5 linked regions of the Homo sapiens genome follow. The protein of the gene in region 2 purifies or fractionates together with the protein of the main gene of each other region. This does not show direct contact. Each region holds a gene or a part of one and is shown on either strand. Other genes may lie near its edges. The genes, in order: EIF2AK4, EIF2A, CHORDC1, EIF2AK1 and WDR4.

Region 1 (3,519 bases), on a different chromosome or scaffold from region 2:
TAATTTATAGATAGTTACAAATTACTAACTTATTTTGGCTAGCTTTCCACAGCAGCAAAAGGTCTGCTCATTTATAATTTGATAGCTTTTGGAAACATCCCTCCAAAAAACTTGCTTCAATCCCTGGATCCCCCAGTAGTGTATGGTGGTGTTTGTTTTCCTTTATCTTCAACAATACTATATATGTTAGACTTTTTCATCTTTGCCACATAAATGAAACATATCTCATTTTAATTTTTATTTATTTATAAATTATCTAGAACACCTTTGTTTACAAACCATTGATTTTTCTTTTTCTGTGAACTGCTCATACTCTGGTTTATTTTTCTACTCTGTGGTCCATTTTCTTGTTTATTTGTAAGAGCTAAATATCTTAAGAAAACTAGCATTTTGGGTCATATAATGCATATATTTTTCTCCTAATTATATGCATTTATTTACGTAATTTATGTGATTTAAAAAATGTTGATAGAGTCAAAATGACCTTTTTTTTCTTTTATGGTCCCTGTGGGTTTTTTTTCCCCCTCTGTTCCAATGTTACTAAAAACCAAATTCGTCAAAGTTTACTTTTAACTTGTTCATGACTTCGTTTTTAAATTTTCATCAAATAAAGATATAAGTAGGTTTTTTTTTTTAAGTTCTTCGTTCCATCAAAGTACGGGCCTAGGCCACCTCCCCGTGTGCATCCCTCCTCCTCCAGCTAGGCAGCTAGACAAATATAGGCAATTGAATTTTTCAGTGTCTTCCACTCATTTGAAATGCCATTCCTACAAGCCCAGTGCCTGGTAAAACAAACAAAAAACTTTCAAAAATTGTTACTGAATGAAATAATTCTCAAATGTATTTCAAGTCTCTTTTTTTCCTTGCCTGGAATGCTTGGTCTCTTGGCTTGTCTCAGCTTCAATGCTACATCCTCAGATAGTTCTTCTTTGATAACCACATTTAAGTATATACCCTCACACCCCAAGTCGTTTGTTAAGGAGAGCACCACGTCATCTCTTCAACGGCACTCTCTAAGCTTGTACTTATGTGTTTATTATGTTTGTTTTCCCCCACCAGACTGAAGTTCCATGAGAGCTGGAACCATATCTGTGTTCTCACCTCCGTGGACTAAGCACAGTGCCTGACACAGAGTCAGTGCTTAGCAAATATGGGTGATGGATGTGTGATGGGTGAATGAGTGGATGAAAGACCTGTGGACCAAAGAGTGCTTAACCCTTCCCCAGACCACATTCGCAGAATTATGCTTTATGGAAGGACCCACACATTTATCAAGGATTATTATAAAGCCATATAAGAACTGATCTTACAAATTTTGTACACATAGTAGAAGAGTACAGTGTTTATTATATGGTACTCCTTGTAAGGTTCACGTTATAAATTTCTGTTAGAATTTAGTATTATAAGTACTTTGCTTCCCTAAAATAATTTTTAGGCTTTCTCTTTTCTGATGATACCACGTTTCTCTTTTTGCCCTGCCTGCCAGGACATTCAGAGAAAAAAATCAAGGCTCAATCCCAGCAACTTAGGATGGCATAATAAAAGAGTGGCTTATGGGAGGAGACAGGGTTTGGAGTTAAGGCTGGGTTTGAATCCCAGCTCTGTCCCTGTGTATCTGTAGGCAAGAATGTAAAACTCCCTGAGCCTGAGCTTCTGTATCTGTAAAATGGAGATGACACCTGCCTTGCAAAGTTGGTAAGGTGCCTGGACCATGGGAGCGCTCAGCCATTGTTTTTTCTCTCAGACTCCCCTTGTTCATTATATACATATAATATGAACTACTTCAAATCCACTTTGGAAAAAGTGTATCTAAATTGAAGAACAAGGGTATTTTGCGATTTGGTGAAAAGTAGTTGATTGAAAACATATGCAATTCTCTCCTTGTCAAGGGTTTTCATTTGTTAATATCTCAGTATTCAGATCTCAATTCAAATCTCCCCTGCTCGCAGAGTCCTTCACTGACCTACCTGTCCAGATACCTTCTCCTCGCCCACCACTATGTCCCTCTACTCTGCTTTGTTTTCTTTACAGCACTCATCACTATTTGAAATCACTCGTCTTCTAGTTTGTATCAGCTGGTTGGGACTGTGTCTGTCTAAATTTACCCCTGCACTCCCAGCTTCCAGGAGAGCACCCAGGCATAATAACTCAGTAACATCTGAACGAATGGAAGCTGAGTGGAACATTTTGGTTCATTCCTTAGATAACTTAAAAAAGGAAAGTGCATTTTCACTGGCTTAGGTTTTGTTTTTAAATCATGCTTTTGGAAAGTATGCCAGATTATCTATTTAAAATATAATTACAAATATTTTTAAAGTAGAACTTTTGATCTAAAATGATCATTATCTTAATCATTAATGATTGGCTCTACAGCTTTGAAAAAAATTTTTTTTGTTTTTCCTCTTTTAGGTCAAAGAGCCCCCTGAAATCAATTTAGTTTTGTACCCTCAAGGCCTAACTGGTGAAGAAGTATATGTAAAAGTGGATTTGAGGGTTAAATGCCCACCTACCTATCCAGATGTGTGAGTACATTTATAAATAGCTTTGACGTGGTTTCAGTTTTCTGTTTTGACAACATAGAAACAGATTGAAATTCGTAGTATTTTCTCCTTCCTGCTCCCATTCCACATAAAATTTCATTTCCTCTATTTCAACAAAACTACATCAGCAATAGATGTTTTCATGAAACCTGTCTCATTTTAAGCCTGTTCATAGTTATAGAATTGTCACTACAGATACTTATATTTGCCTAGTGACTATTTTGCTTCCTCTGATGTGTTAACTTTTGTTTATTTATTTCTTCATAAGTTAGGAAGAGGAAAATTTGGAAGAAAACAATAAAGGCATGGTGACTGTTGAAAGCCCTTGCATAGTTAGAGTGTGGCTGGTATTAGAAATTCAGCAAGTCTGTGCCTCAGATGACCTTTCACTGCCTAGAGTGAGGGAGAGTATTTGGATCTGTCCTGCCTCTCAATGGGGCACTCTGGCGAGTGTCCATTGTGCAGGGCTGTGCTGTGCACTGCAGTACGTTTAGCATCCCTGGCCCCCACCTACCAATGCCACGAGTGTCCTCCAGGCATTGAAACAACCAAATAACCTACATATTTCCAGACTCCCTCTGAAGGTGATGTCACCTCTGGTTGAGAAAAACTAGTTAGAGCCAAAGTGTTAGCCATCAGCACTTAAGCATGTCTATTTGGTGTAATCTTTCCCCACCCATCCCACATGGAAAGGCAGGTTGGCCTGGATGGCGTTAAGTAGTTTGAAATTATTGTATGGGGAACCAGTGAAGGTTTTTGAGATGGAAAGGGACAAGTAAAAGGAAACTCTGCTTTACACAGTGGGTGGTAAATTTATGGAATTTATTATCCTAAGAAGTGATAGGGAGGATATGAAAAGACAGATAAGTCAAAATTGAGCTCCTTGAAGTCAGTAACCATTCTTGGCCCCCAAAACTGTCCTGAGAGTATTATAGTAGGTATACTATACATACTATAAAAATATTAATTAACGAAACGT
Region 2 (3,519 bases):
GCCAAAATCAGGGCATTGCACTCCAGCCTGGGCAAAAAGATGAGACTCCGTCTCAAAAAAAAAAAAAAAAAAAATTGGGAAACTAAAATAAGTGATTCTAGCTTTATATCAGGTTGGTGGCATAACCATGTGAAGACCTGCAAAATTCTTTTTTTTTGAGACTGAGTTTTGCCCTTGTTGCCCAGGCTAGAGTGCAGTGGTGCAATCTCGGCTTAATGCAACCTCTGCCCCCCAGGTTCAAGCGATTCTCCTGCCTCAGCCTCCCAAGTAGGTGGGATTACAGGTGCCTGCCACCATGCCTGGCTAATTTTTTTGTATTTGTAGTAGTGACAGAGTTTCACCGTGTTGGCCAGGCTAGTCTCAAACTCCTGACCTCAGGTGATCCACCTGTCTCATCCTCCCAAAGTGCTGGGATTACAGACGTGAGCCACCATGCCTGGCCTAATAGTTTTCTTTTTAACTGAAAGTTGATATTGTCATTTGAATCTACTATAGGATAGAGTAAATTAATTGTATTAATGTTGTTAGGCACCAAGATTTTTCAGCATTAGAGTGAAAAGATAGACTTGCCTATATCAGTATGAACTCATGATTTCCTTTCATAAAACATTTGCATTTCCTAGTTCTGGCCAATGAAAAGGCCTGGAAGCAGTGATAACACAGTAGCAGTGAATACCCCATCCTCACAGATTGTGATCTCTAAATACAATTCTTCACTAAAAGGAACCACTTCCTTGGAGAAGTGGTCAACTCTAGGTCTGGGACAGAAAATGTACAAGTTGAGGTAGCAACTTTTGTGCCAGAAAGCAAAGCTATAAAAGACTAATGAGATTTTGTTAAAGGGTCGTAGGAAGCAACTTGAAGAGATTCACACCAACCTAAGATGGGAACATTAAGAATTATGAATAGAAAGATAAAGCATGTCAAGTATATAAATGCTCCCCCGAAAAATCCCCCCTCCGTTTAAACCTAACTGGTCAGCATTGGTGGTTGATGGAGTCCTCACTCATTACTTTGAAAATTGATAAATAAAGGGAAGGAGTCAAGCATTTATCTTGCCTTTCTTATACAAACTGTTTCTCAGAGTAACCAAGTGGTTGATGAGAAAAAGAATTTTATAGACGAATTCCAGTTAATAAATGGAGAATGGATGCTGGATCAGACAATTACCATTTTGTAATCCTCAAGAAATGGATCTAGGCCACTGGTTCTCAAACTTTACCAAGCATCAGAATCATCTGAAAAGCTCGTTAAAATCCAGATTGCAGCTCTCTTTCCAAATGTTCGGATTCATTAGATCAGCGGTAGGGCCCAATAATTTGCATTTTTAACAAATTCCCCAGTGATACTGATGCTGCAAATCTGGGGACCCCCCTTTAAGAACCACTGATCTAGGCAGATGATCATCAAAAGATGCTGAAACCTTTAGCTGAACTGTTTGATGACTGTTAATGGGGAACTTTATAATCAGGCTGTTGTCATCTGACTCTACTGACCAATTTTTATTAGGCCCAGTTCTCTAGAACCTTGCTACAGGAAGCATGGGCCCAACCAAGACCAACTATATTGGCATCACTCCTGAGCCAGTACAGAAATGCATCTCAGGCCCTACCCAACTTACTGAATCAGAATCTGTATTTTAGCTAGATCTTCAGATGATTTATATGCACTTTTTTTTTTCCAGAGTCTTGCTCTGCTGCCCAGGCTAGAATGGAGTGGTGTAATCATGGCCCACTGTAGCCTCAATCTCCCAGGCTCAAACAATACTCCTGCCTCAGTATCCCAAGTAGCTGGGACTATAGGCGCATGCCACCATGCCTGGCTAATTTTTGTATGTTTTGTAGAGATGGGGGTCTCACTATGTTGCCCAGGCTGCTCTCCAACTCCTGGGCTCAAGAGATCCAACCGCCTTGGCCTCCCAAAGTGCTGGGATTACAGGCCTCAGCCACCATGCCTGGCCTGTATGCACATTATTTATTTATTTACTTATTTATTTATTTTTTTTGAGATGGAGTTTCACTCTTGTTGCCCAGGCTGGAGTGCAATGGTACAATCTCGGCTCACTGCAACCTCTGCTTCCTGGGTTCAAGCGATTCTCCTGCCTCAGCCTCCCAAGTAGCTGGGATTATAGGCACCTGCTACCACACCTGGCTAAATTTTTTTATTTTTAGTAGAGACGTGGTTTCACCATGTTGGCCAGGCTGGTCTCGAACTTCTGACCTCAGGTGATTCACCCTCCTTGGCCTCCCAAAGTGCTGGGATTACAGGTGTGAGCCACCACACCCGGCCATGTATGCACATTAATGTTTGAGAAGCACTACTCTAGAAAACCCAGTCTGGCTGGGCGCGGTGGCTCATGCCTGTAATCCCAGCGCTTTGGGAGGCCAAGGTGGGTGGATCACTTGAGCCCAGGAGTTCAGGATGAGCCTGGGCAGTATGGCAAAACCCCATATCTATTTAAAAAACAAAAAACAAAAAAAAAACTATGGCAAAGTTATGTGCTACACTTCATTAGGGTATGCAGTCCCAAGGCTGCAGGAGTAGGGGAGAAAGGGAAATGAGACAGGGAAGGAGTTAAAGCAAGTATGATGGGATATACTGAGGTGACCACAAATCCACAAAATATAGCCAACTTGCTTGGTCATGTGTGCAAAATTTTTGTCTCCAGAAAGGCTGTATGGAACATTTGTACTTCAGAACAGTCTGTTGTGTGGAGACAGGGTAAGAAGTTTACTACAGCCTCTTAGCCTGTTTGGGTTGAATCTGAGTGCCAGAGCTCCTCCATGTGCTGCCGCAGTGCATGGTGGAAGCCATGTGGAAGTATGGCCCTTAACTCTGCAGATTCAAAGACAACCAGTGGCGTTAGGAGATGAGGTCTCTTCATTGAATAGTTGAGGCGTGGCAGCAGGAAGAGTTAGGTAGATACAAGGAGGCACATGACTGAATCCAGTACAATCTCAGTATCACTAAGAGTAGAACAGAGAGATATTTATGTGTCTCCTGGTGAGTTATTATACAGTAGGAACTGTGCTGTACATATCTTCTACGAAAGTTAAAAAAACTTCAAACTCAGAATTTAGTCAGTCTTTTACATGAGTAGTTCTCAAATGTGGCTGCACAATAGAATGACCTGGGGAGCTGTTAAAAAACCCAGATATCCAATCCAAGTATTGGGTATTAAATGATATTAAGAAGTTAATTTTGTGAGATGAAGTGGCATGGTGGTGATTATGTTTTTAAAAAAATATACTCACTGGTTAGAGATGCATAATCAAGTATAGAGCAATATGATAATGACATCTAGTTTTTGCGTTGGAATGTTGTGGCATGAAAGATAAAAGTGGGGAATAGATAAAATTGGCTCTGAGTTAATAGTTACTTAAGCTTGATGATGAGTGCATAGGTGGATTATCATACTTTTTCTCTATTTTTTGTGTATGTTTGAAATTTTTCATTCAAAAAATTATACCAGAAGGAAAGAGGCAAAATTTCCCAATTGCCAAGACCAAGAAAATAATC
Region 3 (3,519 bases), on a different chromosome or scaffold from region 2:
TTTCTTAAAGTCCTAGACTTTCCAAGATTATTGGATTTCACAGTCCAGAAGATTTCAGACAAAATGCGTATACATCAATACAGGGATACTAGTTGACCAAGTAAGAAGTTAAACATTGCATTGACAAAAGAAATACTATTTTAATATTAGAAGGGGCATATTCAGAGAAAAGGACAATCTTGCTGAAAAAAGACAACTAGCAACCTTATATTCACATAACTTAAATTTATCTTTCCTTTTCTCATTGTACTGAAGACTAGCATAGAATCCAGATTGGCATTTGGGAACAGCTGGCCTGTATTGTATTTTACATGTGTGTATCACAGTATCTGACATAATTTAGTACATGATTAAGACAGTAAAACTTTTTCTCTTATAGAATAACTTTTCTGTTGACTATATTATTGATGCTATTTAAACCCTATATTTAAGGTTGTAGTAATTGATCTACATCTCAATTCGGAGTAAAAGATAATTAAATTTCAAATTAAAGGAAAATTTGAATTATAGGATATTTGAAATTACCTTTAAAGAAAAAGAACCTACAGGTGCATATAATGAGAAAAATCACTACCATATTTTTATGCAGTCTTTTGAAAATCAGCGAGGTCCAGGCGGATGTGTGCAAAGTTGCATCTTAATCTGAATTTAGTCCCAAATCTTAATCTGAAGTTCCAAGTTTTGAGATTTTGCATTTTTGTTTCCCTATGCTCTATAAACATTGGAATTTAGAGATAATTATTAAAGCCATTTTTTGGTAAACTACTTGATAGTTTGTTCAAAAATCACAAATACTAATAGTTTCTCTGTCTTTATGCTTCTCACTGAAAAGATCACCTTCAAAGGCTTAATAGTGCTTTAGCTGCTGTGTTAATTAATCTTTGTTGTTCTGAAAATAGAATGCTTATTGTGAAATTAAAATTAACTAAAGATAGTTACTATCTTTAACTTAATAGATTTTAAAAGTAAAATACCTATACTTATTTTGAATATTCTTTAAATATGATAGTTTTAGGAATTATAACATGTTTTTCTTCTAAAAAAAAAGCAGACACGATTGTTGAAAAGAGAAACAGTTTTTGTTTTATAAAGGTGCTTCCCTTGATGATAGGGCATAGCACAAATCACTTTAACATTGGTTAATTGGCTTTTTAAAAATCAAAGATTAATATTCATTTTACTTGATTAGGTGAATTATATGCAACACTGAAATTTTGCACTCTATACGCAAGTTACTGCAGGATTCAAGTAGATAAGTGCAAGTAGAGTGTTTTAGTGGGTCGTGTTTCTCATGCAAATAGAGTTTTTAGTTTCCTTCTCTTGTTTTTCATAGGGTTGGTCTTGCTGTAAGAGAAGAACAACTGATTTTTCTGATTTCTTAAGCATTGTAGTAAGTACTAATTATTTTTTCTAGATTATCTTCCTAAAAATACATGTTATAGAAAGCTTCAGATTTGAGGAGTCTGATTTCTGATATAGATTGATTGGTCTTCATCAACTTGCAGATAACACCTTTCAAAAAGCAGCTCATCTCCCTTCCACAGCTTGTAAAATAAAGAATCTGTTTTGGAAATTAACGTTTTAAGGTATCAGTTACCTGCTTATCATTTTAGGTTTGTTCTTTCTGTTATGTTGAAAGAACATCAAGGAGAAAGTGGTAAGCAACAATTTAAAGCCTTTTCAGTTAGGAACGATAAAGTTTTATCTAAGATGCTGTTGAAATATTTTACATACCACTTTTATATAAAACCACTTTATATACCACTAAGAAAACTAAAGCTACTAACAAACTGATAATGCTATTGATTGTATCATTTCAGAGGTGTTAAAGAGTATGTATAATTCAGTAGAATGTAGTAGAAAAGTAGCTAACGTTTGTTGAATGTTATCACCTGCCAAATGTGCCAGGCATTTTATTATTTAACTCTCTCAGAAAATATCTTACCTGACATTACCTCCATTTTACAAATGAGGAGATGGAGGTTTAAAAAGATTATCTTGCTTAAGGTCATATAACTAATAAGTATGTTGAGAACTAGGTCTCAAATTGAGGCCTTTCGAGTAACAGATTTTTCTGTATAACTATTTTTTACAGTTCTTTGTGAGATTCTCCAGAATTCTTCTGTAAACAAGAGGTTTATGCCATATTTTTAATAGAATAAGTAGATGTTTATGAAGTGTAATTCAAAGACTTTTTAAAAAAGCCGTCATTCAGAGATTCAGCAAATATGGCAAATTTGGAGTTCTGTTTTTAATTTCTTAAAATCAATGTATTGAAACTGGAGAAAACATGAAATAGAATCACTATCAATAAAGAACTGAAAAGATAATATTTCTATCATGAAATGTAAAATAGATAGCTCTTAATGAATTATCTTTCACTAACAGGGCTGTACAAAAGGTAGACATAATAGTGAGAAGCCACCTGAGCCAGTCAAACCTGAAGTCAAGACTACTGAGAAGAAGGAGCTATGTGAATTAAAACCCAAATTTCAGGAACACATCATTCAAGCCCCTAAGCCAGTAGAAGCAATAAAAAGACCAAGGTATACTTTATACAGTTACATATTTTTGTCACACTTGAATAGTAGCACTTGTGCATGGTACTTTCCTTTATGATTTAGCATGATACCATTTGTAGCTACTATGTAGGCCACCAAGCTTTGAACCATTTGGTTTCTCCCTTAAATCTGCCTTAAATTTTTATTTCTCTTCAACTTGAGAGCATGTACACAATATAACTACATAACAGATTTGCATATTGTACTGTCATAATTACAGGGACATGTATCATCAGGGTAGGGAAGTCACATTTTTCTTGTGCCTTAGAGTGCATCTTTTTCACTGTGGCATGGTAAAATTCTTTGAAGCAGTTTTCCTTTTCATGGCATGAGTTTGAAGTAGAAAATAATGCAGAGGCCTAATCATCCATCTTTACTTTCAGATGCCTGAAAACTACCGTTAATCTCATTACTACTGGTCAATTTTTAATGCATTTGATTTAGATGACATATTTGTGAAAGTAGTCTTAAAAAAGCGTTTGCTCATTGTGCAATAGAGTTGTACAGATTCTTCATACTTGCCTTCTGATAACCAGACTCTGTATTCCCACACATGTATATTGAGTACCTTTGTTGAACCAGGTCTTCTTCGTGCTACACTTGAGTACTAAATTGTTTTAGAAGCAAACTACAGGACTTAAAAAAAGGTGATTTTTTTTTTTTTTTTTGGCTGCAAGTAGGCACTTATTGTAATTTTTATTCATGCTATGAACTCATGATTTTCCCTTTATTCTCCTTTGATCCTACTTAAATAAATTTATAGAGTATTGAATAATATAGAACCAAGATAAGAACCCTAAGAGACTTTAGATGTTTATTTGTTCATTAGCACTCTGAGTACAGATTATTGCTAAGGAAACTACTCAGGATGATTTTATTCTCTCTCCATCTTCATAGTTAGAGGAGACCATTGAATGCTTTGGCCAGTTTAGCAGTTAGAAAAATAATTGGGAAAAGA
Region 4 (3,519 bases), on a different chromosome or scaffold from region 2:
CCTGAGTAGCTGGGATCACAGGTGCACACCACCACGCTCACCTAATTTTTGTATTTTTAGTAGAGACGGTGTTTCACCGTGTTGGCCAGGCTGGTCCTGAGCTCCTGACCTCAGGTGATCTGCTTGCCTCGGCCTCTCTAAGTGCTGGAATTACAGATGTGAGCCACCACACCCAGCTAGTTTTTTTTTTTTTTTTTTTTTTTTTTGAGACAGAGTTTCACTTTGTTGCCCAGGCTGGAGTGCAATGGCACGATCTCAGCTCATCTCAACCTCTGCCTCCTGGGTTTAAGGGATTCTCCTGCCTCAGCCTCCTGAGTGGCTAGGATTGATTACAGGCATGCGCCACCACGCCTGGCTAATTTTGTTTTTTCGTAGAGACAGGGTTTCTCCATGTTGGCCAGGCTGGTCTCGAACTCCTGACCTTAGGTGATCTGCCTGCCTCGGCCTCTCAAAGTGCTGGGATTACAGGCATGAGCCACTGTGCCCAGCTAGGTTTTTTTTTTTTTTTTTTTACCTGTTTAGTCATGTCTTAAATAAACAGTAAGTGAGAACTTAACGACCTTCAGCCTTAGTGCCAACTCGTCTGTCTGCATGGTCTCATACAGTGCAAAGAGGATGGGGTTCGGGAGTCAGTCTGATCTGCCTTGTTCACTGGTTCCTCAGCCTCTCTGAGATCAGTGTTTTCATCTGTAAAATGAGGATGAACACTTACCTTATATTATTTTTTGAGCATTGAAGGAGATTGTACATGTAGATAAGTAGCACACGCTCATCGAGAAAAGTTTCCATTTTTCCTATCTTTCCCTCTGTCATCTGCCCAACTTCTTTTTTTTTTTTTTTTTTTTTGAGACGGAGTTTCGCTCTTGTTGCCAAGGCTGGAATGCAATGGTTGATCTCGGCTCACCGCAACTTCTGCCTCCCAGGTTCAAGCTATTTTCCTGCCTCAGCCTCCTGAGTAGCTGGGATTACAGGCGCCTGCCACCACTGCCCGGCTAATTTTGTATTTTTAGTAGAGATGGTGTTGCTCCATGTTGGTCAGGCTGGTCTCAAACTCCTGACCTCAGGTGATCCACTGGCCTCAGCCTCCCAAAGTGCTGGGATTACAGGCATGAACAACCGCGCCCGGCCATCCTCTGCCTAACTTCTTTCTTTATGCCTGGGTCTTGGCTGTCTTCTCAAAGGAAGGAAGCCATCCTAGTCCCACTTCCTTGCGTATTGATTTATTTGTACTATTGGACACATCAGAAAACTGTTTCTCCTCTGTCTCACGGCATCTTTCTGCTGATCCTCCAGCTTCCAGGATTCAGCTCCAAATTCACTTCCAGAAAGCCTTTCTTGATTAACCCAACTCAGCATAACTATTCTTTTGGTTTTTATCTGCTTACATTTAAATATTTCATGTTTCATTAATTAGAATATACGGTTTTGTCATTATGAGACAGGTTTACCATTAATTTAAAAATATTTTCCTTTTTAATTTTTAGAATCTGATGTTCCAGCAGAAATCCAGGTGTTAAAAGAACCCCTACAACAGCCAACCTTCCCTTTTGCAGTTGCAAACCAACTCTTGCTGGTTTCTTTGCTGGAGCACTTGAGCCACGTGCATGAACCAAACCCACTTCGTTCAAGACAGGTGTTTAAGCGTAAGTAAGAATAAATGAATCTTGCTAAATAAAGCTTGTAAAGGCTGGGCTCCGTGGTTCATGCCTGTAATCCCAGCACTTTGGGAGGCTGAGGTGGGCGGATCACCCGAGGTCCGGAGATCGAGATCGGTTTGGCTAACATGACGAAACCCCCTCTTTACTCAAAATATGGAAATTAGCCGGGTGTTGTGGCAGGCACCTGTAACCCCAGCTACTCGGGAGGCTGAGGCGGAGAATCAGTTGAACTGGGGAGGTGGAGGTTGCAGTGAGCCGAGATAGCGCCACTGCACTCCAGCCTGGGTGAAAGAGTGAGACTGTCTCAAAAATAAATAAATAAAGCTTGTAAAAATACTGTGTTGCTGTTCTCACTTATTCATGGGAGGTAAAAATTAAAACAATTGAACTAATGGAGATAGAGTAGAATGATGGTTCCCAGAGGCTGGGAGGATAGTGGAGGATGGTTAATGGGTACAAAAATATAGTTAGAATAAATTGGATCTAGTATTTGATAGCACAGCAGAGTGACTACAGTCAACAATAATTTATTGTACATTTAAAAAATAATAAAAAAGATGGCCAGGTGCAGTGGCTCATGCCTGTAATCCCAGCACTTTGGGAGGCCAAGGTGGGTGAATCACTTGAGGTCAGGAGTTTGAGACCAGCCTGACCAACATGGTGAAATCCCATCTCTATTAAAAAAAAAATGCAAAACTACCCAGGCGTAATGGCACATGGCTGTAATCTCAGCTACTTGGGAGGCTGAGGTAGGAGAATTGCTTGAACCCGGGTGGCGGAGGTTGCAGTGAGCCGAGATCACGCCACTGCACTCCAGCCTGGGCAACAAGAGCTAAAGTCCATCTCAAAAAAAAAAAAAAAAAGAATGGGCTGGGCGCGGTGGCTCACGCCTGTAATCCCAGCACTTTGGGAGACTGAGGCAGGTGGATCATGAGGTCAAGAGATCGAGACCATCCTGGCTAACATGGTGAAACCCTGTCTCTACTAAAAATACAAAAATTAGCTGGGCATGGTGGCGGGCACCTGTAATCCCAGCTGTAATTTGGGAGGCTGAGGCTGGAAAATCATTTGAACCTGGGAGGCGGAGGTTGCAGTGAGCTGAGATCGCGCCATTGCACACCAGCCTGGCGACAGAGCAAGACTCAGTCTCAACAAAATAAAAATAACGAAAAGAATATAATTGGATTGTTTGTAACACAAAGAAGGGATAAATGCTTTAGATGATGGATACCCCATTTATCCTGATGTGATTATTACACATCACATGTCTGTATCAAAATATCTCATGTACCCCCATAAATATATACATCTACCATATACTCACAAAAATTAAAAATACAAAATAAAAATATGTTGTTTAATGCTGTGAGTCTGGAAAGCGTCTGGTATACAAAAATTGGAGTGAAATAAATATTAATGATTTCCCTACTTCAATTCAGCTTACATTTTTCTTTGAGTAATTCCTTACAAATATAACTGTGGATCCCATAATTGCATAAAATTGAATAAATGAAATATAGTTCTTTTGCATCTATACTATGATAATGCTCACAATTTTTTTTTTTCTCGAGATGGAGTCTCACTCTGTTGCCCAGGCTGGAGTGCATTGGCGCGATTTCCGCTCACTGCAATCTCCGCCCCCCGGGTTCAAGTGATTCTCCTGCCTCACCCTCCCGAGTAGCTGGGGTAGGCACGTGCCACCATGCCCGGGTAATTTTTGTATTTTTAATAGAGACGGGGTTTCACCATGTTGTTCAGGCTGGTCTCGAACTCCTGACCTGGTGATCCACCCGCCTCGGCCTTCAGTGTGCTTTGATCACTCCTGTGAGTAACCAGTGTGCTCCAGTCTGGGTGACATAGT
Region 5 (3,519 bases), on a different chromosome or scaffold from region 2:
ACGTGTTTTCTCTAAGGAATGTGTTAGAAGGATTGTTAGTGATTTTGCCAAAGTGAGGGCCTTGGATTCCTCACAGGGTCTGATTCTGTCCTCTTGCGGAATTGTTGCCCGCACACCACCACCTTCCTCTTCGCTGTCCTTCCCTGTGTTGTCTGTGTTGGTCCTTTGTGTGGTGTGGCAGGATGGCTGATGGACCTTCTGGCCGCTTCTATGTTTCTTCTCTGATTGGGCTTCATTCACAGCCTCCTGTTCCTGCTCTTCAAATTAACACACAGCCACGCGACCTGAGAGAAGAAGAAAAGTGTGGCCATAATCTCCAGAGGGTCAGGGTCAGGGTCAGGCTTCGTCAGCGGTTTGTTGTGCACCTTCCAGTCTTTTTCATAATATGAGGAAAATCTTCCACGGGCAGAGAAGCCTCCCCAGGCCCCATCTGTCCCTCATGGCTTACTGCTTTGTTTGAGTGGAACACGTCATCTGGTAGCTGCCAAAAGGCGCGAGGAGGGTCAGTGTTTTCTGACTTTGCTTTTCTGGAAATACCTTTAATCTCCTTTGAGGCCTGGTTGTTAGTTTGGCGTAGAAGTCCTGGTTGAAACGGTTTCCCTCGGAGCTTGGGAGGCCTTGCACAGTGTGCTCTCCAGCTGGTTGCTCCTGTGGGTTTTCCCGCGCGCTTCCTGTAGAAACCTGCAGCTGTCTGCCGTGGGTCCGTGGGGTGACAGCTGGGCTCTCCTTCTGCCTGGAGGACTTTCTCTGCTCCAGTGTGCGATGTGAAAGCCACTGAGGTGACTTGGTGGGCCCCAGAGGGGAGTTGGCCACACAGCCAGTGATTTTCAGTGTCCTCCGACCTGGGGCATTTTCTTACATGATTACCTTCTGTTCTCTACCCCTGCCTCTTGCTCACTTTTTCTAAAGCTTGTGTTAGTTGAACCACTTTAATGCTCTGATTCTTATTTTTTTTGAGACAGAGTCTTGCTCTGTCTCCCAGTCTGGAGTGCAGTGGCGTGATCTCGGTTCACTGCAGCCTCTGCCTCCCGGGCTCAAGCAATCCTCCCACCTCAGGCCTCCCGAGTAGCTAGTATTACAGGCACACACCACCATGCCCCGCTAATTTTTTATACTTTTGTAGTGATGGGGTTTTGCCAGCTTGGCCAGGCTGGTCTCAAACTTTTGACCTCAAGCGATCCACCCACTTCCGCCCACTGGGATTATAGGCGAGAGCCACCATGCTGGGCCATAATTCTCTGTTTTTTTTTCTTTCCTGTTCAATCTCGTATTTCTACTCCTTTAGGAATAGTCTTACTTCTTGGGAGATTGCCTCAACTTTACTTTCCAGCCTTCTGTGGAGACTTGAGTTTTATTAGGATTATTTTGAATCTTTAGTTCTTTCTTGCCCTCGGCACGTTCTTTTTTGCAGCCACCCATTCTCGGATAGTGCACGTGTCTCTTATCTCACTGAGATGAGCGTGGACTTTTCTTTCTTCAATTTCTTCCTGGCCTTGTGTTTGATTGCCTTCTCTGGAGTGTGTTGTCTGCCTTTCTCATTGGAGGTTTTCCTCGGATGTCTGGCGATGCCATCTGCCTGTGTGTGATGGGAGTCAGCACCAGCCGGCCTCAGAGGCTGGGTGTGTGCACCCAGGGTGGGGCCCGAGGGGCTTCAGAGCAGGTGTCTGTGGGCAGCAGCCCCTTGCCTGTGGACTCCGTAGAACGTGTGGGTCAGTCGGTCTCTTCTGGGTGGTCAGTGTCCCGGCCTTCACTCTTGCCCAGGTCTGTCCCCTGGGGCTCTGGGAGGTGAGTGCGAAGGGGCTAGGTGACTCTCTTCTCAGTGAGTATTTGGCATCCCCGAGACAGGGGCCCCTCGGCTCCGTTTCCCCAGAGCCTTCTGCTGGCCTGGAGTTTGGGGCTGAGGATGCATCAGGGAGGTCCCGTTTCTCTTTGTAAAGACATTTGACAGCTCCCCTCACCACCTTGGTCTTCAGGCTGCCTGGCCCGGTTTGGTCTTTGGCAGGTCCTGGCACCTCTCGGGCTTCTCTGTGGCTGGTGCATTTGTTCCCTGGCCTCCAGCCCCCAGGTTTCCTTGCTGTCTCTCCGCGGCTGCCTTCTCTTCTTGCCTGTTGTCTTTGTCTTAGTGGGTTCATGGTTATTAAACATCTTTTTCTTGTCTTCGTAGAGAGGTTTGGGGGTGAGTGAAATGCCTGTAGATGTGTGTGTTGGTCTCCATGTTTATCTGCCACATTTGTAGAAAGGTGTGTGTGTGTGCGTGTGTATGTGCATGCGTGTGTGTGTGCATTCATACATCCACTCTTACCTCGGCACCCAGAGGATATGCATCTACTGTTAGCTGTTTGGGGTATTTACTTTTCATCTTTTTCATTTAGTCATTTAAAAATACTTACAAATAGTGCACAGACACTCTCTCATTAGATTTAATGAGTATTGATTTATTTCTCTCCACTGAATTAGTGCTGTAATGAATTTTTTTTAAGCCAGGTATGGTGGCTCATGCCTGTAGTCCCAGCTACTCGGAGGCTGAGGCGGGAGGATTGCCTGGGCCTGGGAGTCAGAGGCTGCAGTGAGCCAGGAGCAAGCCTGTGAATAGCCACTGCAGTGCAGTGGGCAGTGTGGAATAGACCCCATTTCAATTAAACAACAAAAAAATAACAACAGATAAAACCAAGAAAAAAAAGAGAAACGCTTTTTTCCATTGATGATGGTTTTAGAGCGTGGAGCCTCTTGGTTCCTGTGTCGGCTTCCTGAAGGGTTGTACCAGTTGTCGTGGGACGGTTGCTGATGGCCATGTCCTTCCTGTCATTCTTAGTGAAGTGGAGCAGTGGCCACGAGCTCATGAGCCCACACGTGTCTCCCCGTGGGAATGCATGATTGCTGAAGTGTCTGCGCAGACCTGTGTGCATGCCCGTGTCTATGCCCGGCCCGGGCACAGCAGATGTGGTCTGGCCTCCTGGCGGATGACAACCTGGCCATCTAGCGGCCTTGGCTTATTTTGCTAGGATCTGCCTCATTGGCTTTGTCATCTGCCTGGGCATATTGGCACTCGAGAAACAGGGAATCGGTCACCTTCCGTTCCCCACCGTTGTCCTTGATGATTTGCATGAGCGATTTACACAGTCAGAGCAGAGAGCCTTTAATTCCTGAGGGTGGGTGGCATGGCTGTCACGGAGTGGAACCCCGACCACACGCAGCTGTCCTCTCTGTCACCCTACCTGACGGAAGCCCCACAACCATGTGCTAACCTGTGTGTTTGGTTTGTGCAGGACGGCACCCTGAGGCTCTGGGAGTACAGGAGCGGCCGCCAGCTGCACTGCTGTCACCTGGCCAGTCTGCAGGAGCTGGTGGACCCCCAGGCCCCCCAGGTAGCTGCTTCTGTTCACTCCTGGGCGACTGAGTGCTTGTAGACACCGGCAGTCGCCTGACTTGAGTGGAAAAGTCACTTCGCCGTTGGAAACGTTTGCTCTCAATGCCAGACTTCCTCCTGTGTGAGGGAAATCTCGTATTTCAAATTCTGAA

What was found.
Region 1: the proteins of EIF2A (region 2) and EIF2AK4 purify together in Homo sapiens (co-immunoprecipitation; one study listed by IntAct). This does not show direct contact.
Region 3: the proteins of EIF2A (region 2) and CHORDC1 fractionate together in Homo sapiens (co-fractionation; one large-scale study listed by BioGRID). This does not show direct contact.
Region 4: the proteins of EIF2A (region 2) and EIF2AK1 purify together in Homo sapiens (co-immunoprecipitation; one study listed by IntAct). This does not show direct contact.
Region 5: the proteins of EIF2A (region 2) and WDR4 purify together in Homo sapiens (affinity purification with western blotting; one study listed by BioGRID). This does not show direct contact.

What each region holds. Positions count from the first base shown.
Region 1 is NC_000015.10:39,937,096-39,940,614, forward strand, and holds part of EIF2AK4 (eIF-2-alpha kinase GCN2), read left to right. Parts: intron 1-2,409; coding exon 2,410-2,522; intron 2,523-3,519. UniProt on the Homo sapiens protein: Metabolic-stress sensing protein kinase that phosphorylates the alpha subunit of eukaryotic translation initiation factor 2 (EIF2S1/eIF-2-alpha) in response to low amino acid availability.
Region 2 is NC_000003.12:150,553,269-150,556,787, forward strand, and holds part of EIF2A (eukaryotic translation initiation factor 2A), read left to right. Parts: intron 1-3,519. UniProt on the Homo sapiens protein: Functions in the early steps of protein synthesis of a small number of specific mRNAs. Acts by directing the binding of methionyl-tRNAi to 40S ribosomal subunits.
Region 3 is NC_000011.10:90,213,045-90,216,563, reverse strand, and holds part of CHORDC1 (cysteine and histidine-rich domain-containing protein 1), read left to right. Parts: intron 1-1,333; coding exon 1,334-1,390; intron 1,391-2,388; coding exon 2,389-2,546; intron 2,547-3,143; exon of another isoform or gene 3,144-3,208; intron 3,209-3,519. UniProt on the Homo sapiens protein: Regulates centrosome duplication, probably by inhibiting the kinase activity of ROCK2. Proposed to act as co-chaperone for HSP90. May play a role in the regulation of NOD1 via a HSP90 chaperone complex. In vitro, has intrinsic chaperone activity.
Region 4 is NC_000007.14:6,052,670-6,056,188, reverse strand, and holds part of EIF2AK1 (eukaryotic translation initiation factor 2-alpha kinase 1), read left to right. Parts: intron 1-1,484; coding exon 1,485-1,643; intron 1,644-3,519. UniProt on the Homo sapiens protein: Metabolic-stress sensing protein kinase that phosphorylates the alpha subunit of eukaryotic translation initiation factor 2 (EIF2S1/eIF-2-alpha) in response to various stress conditions.
Region 5 is NC_000021.9:42,855,528-42,859,046, reverse strand, and holds part of WDR4 (tRNA (guanine-N(7)-)-methyltransferase non-catalytic subunit WDR4), read left to right. Parts: intron 1-3,266; coding exon 3,267-3,365; intron 3,366-3,519. UniProt on the Homo sapiens protein: Non-catalytic component of the METTL1-WDR4 methyltransferase complex required for the formation of N(7)-methylguanine in a subset of RNA species, such as tRNAs, mRNAs and microRNAs (miRNAs).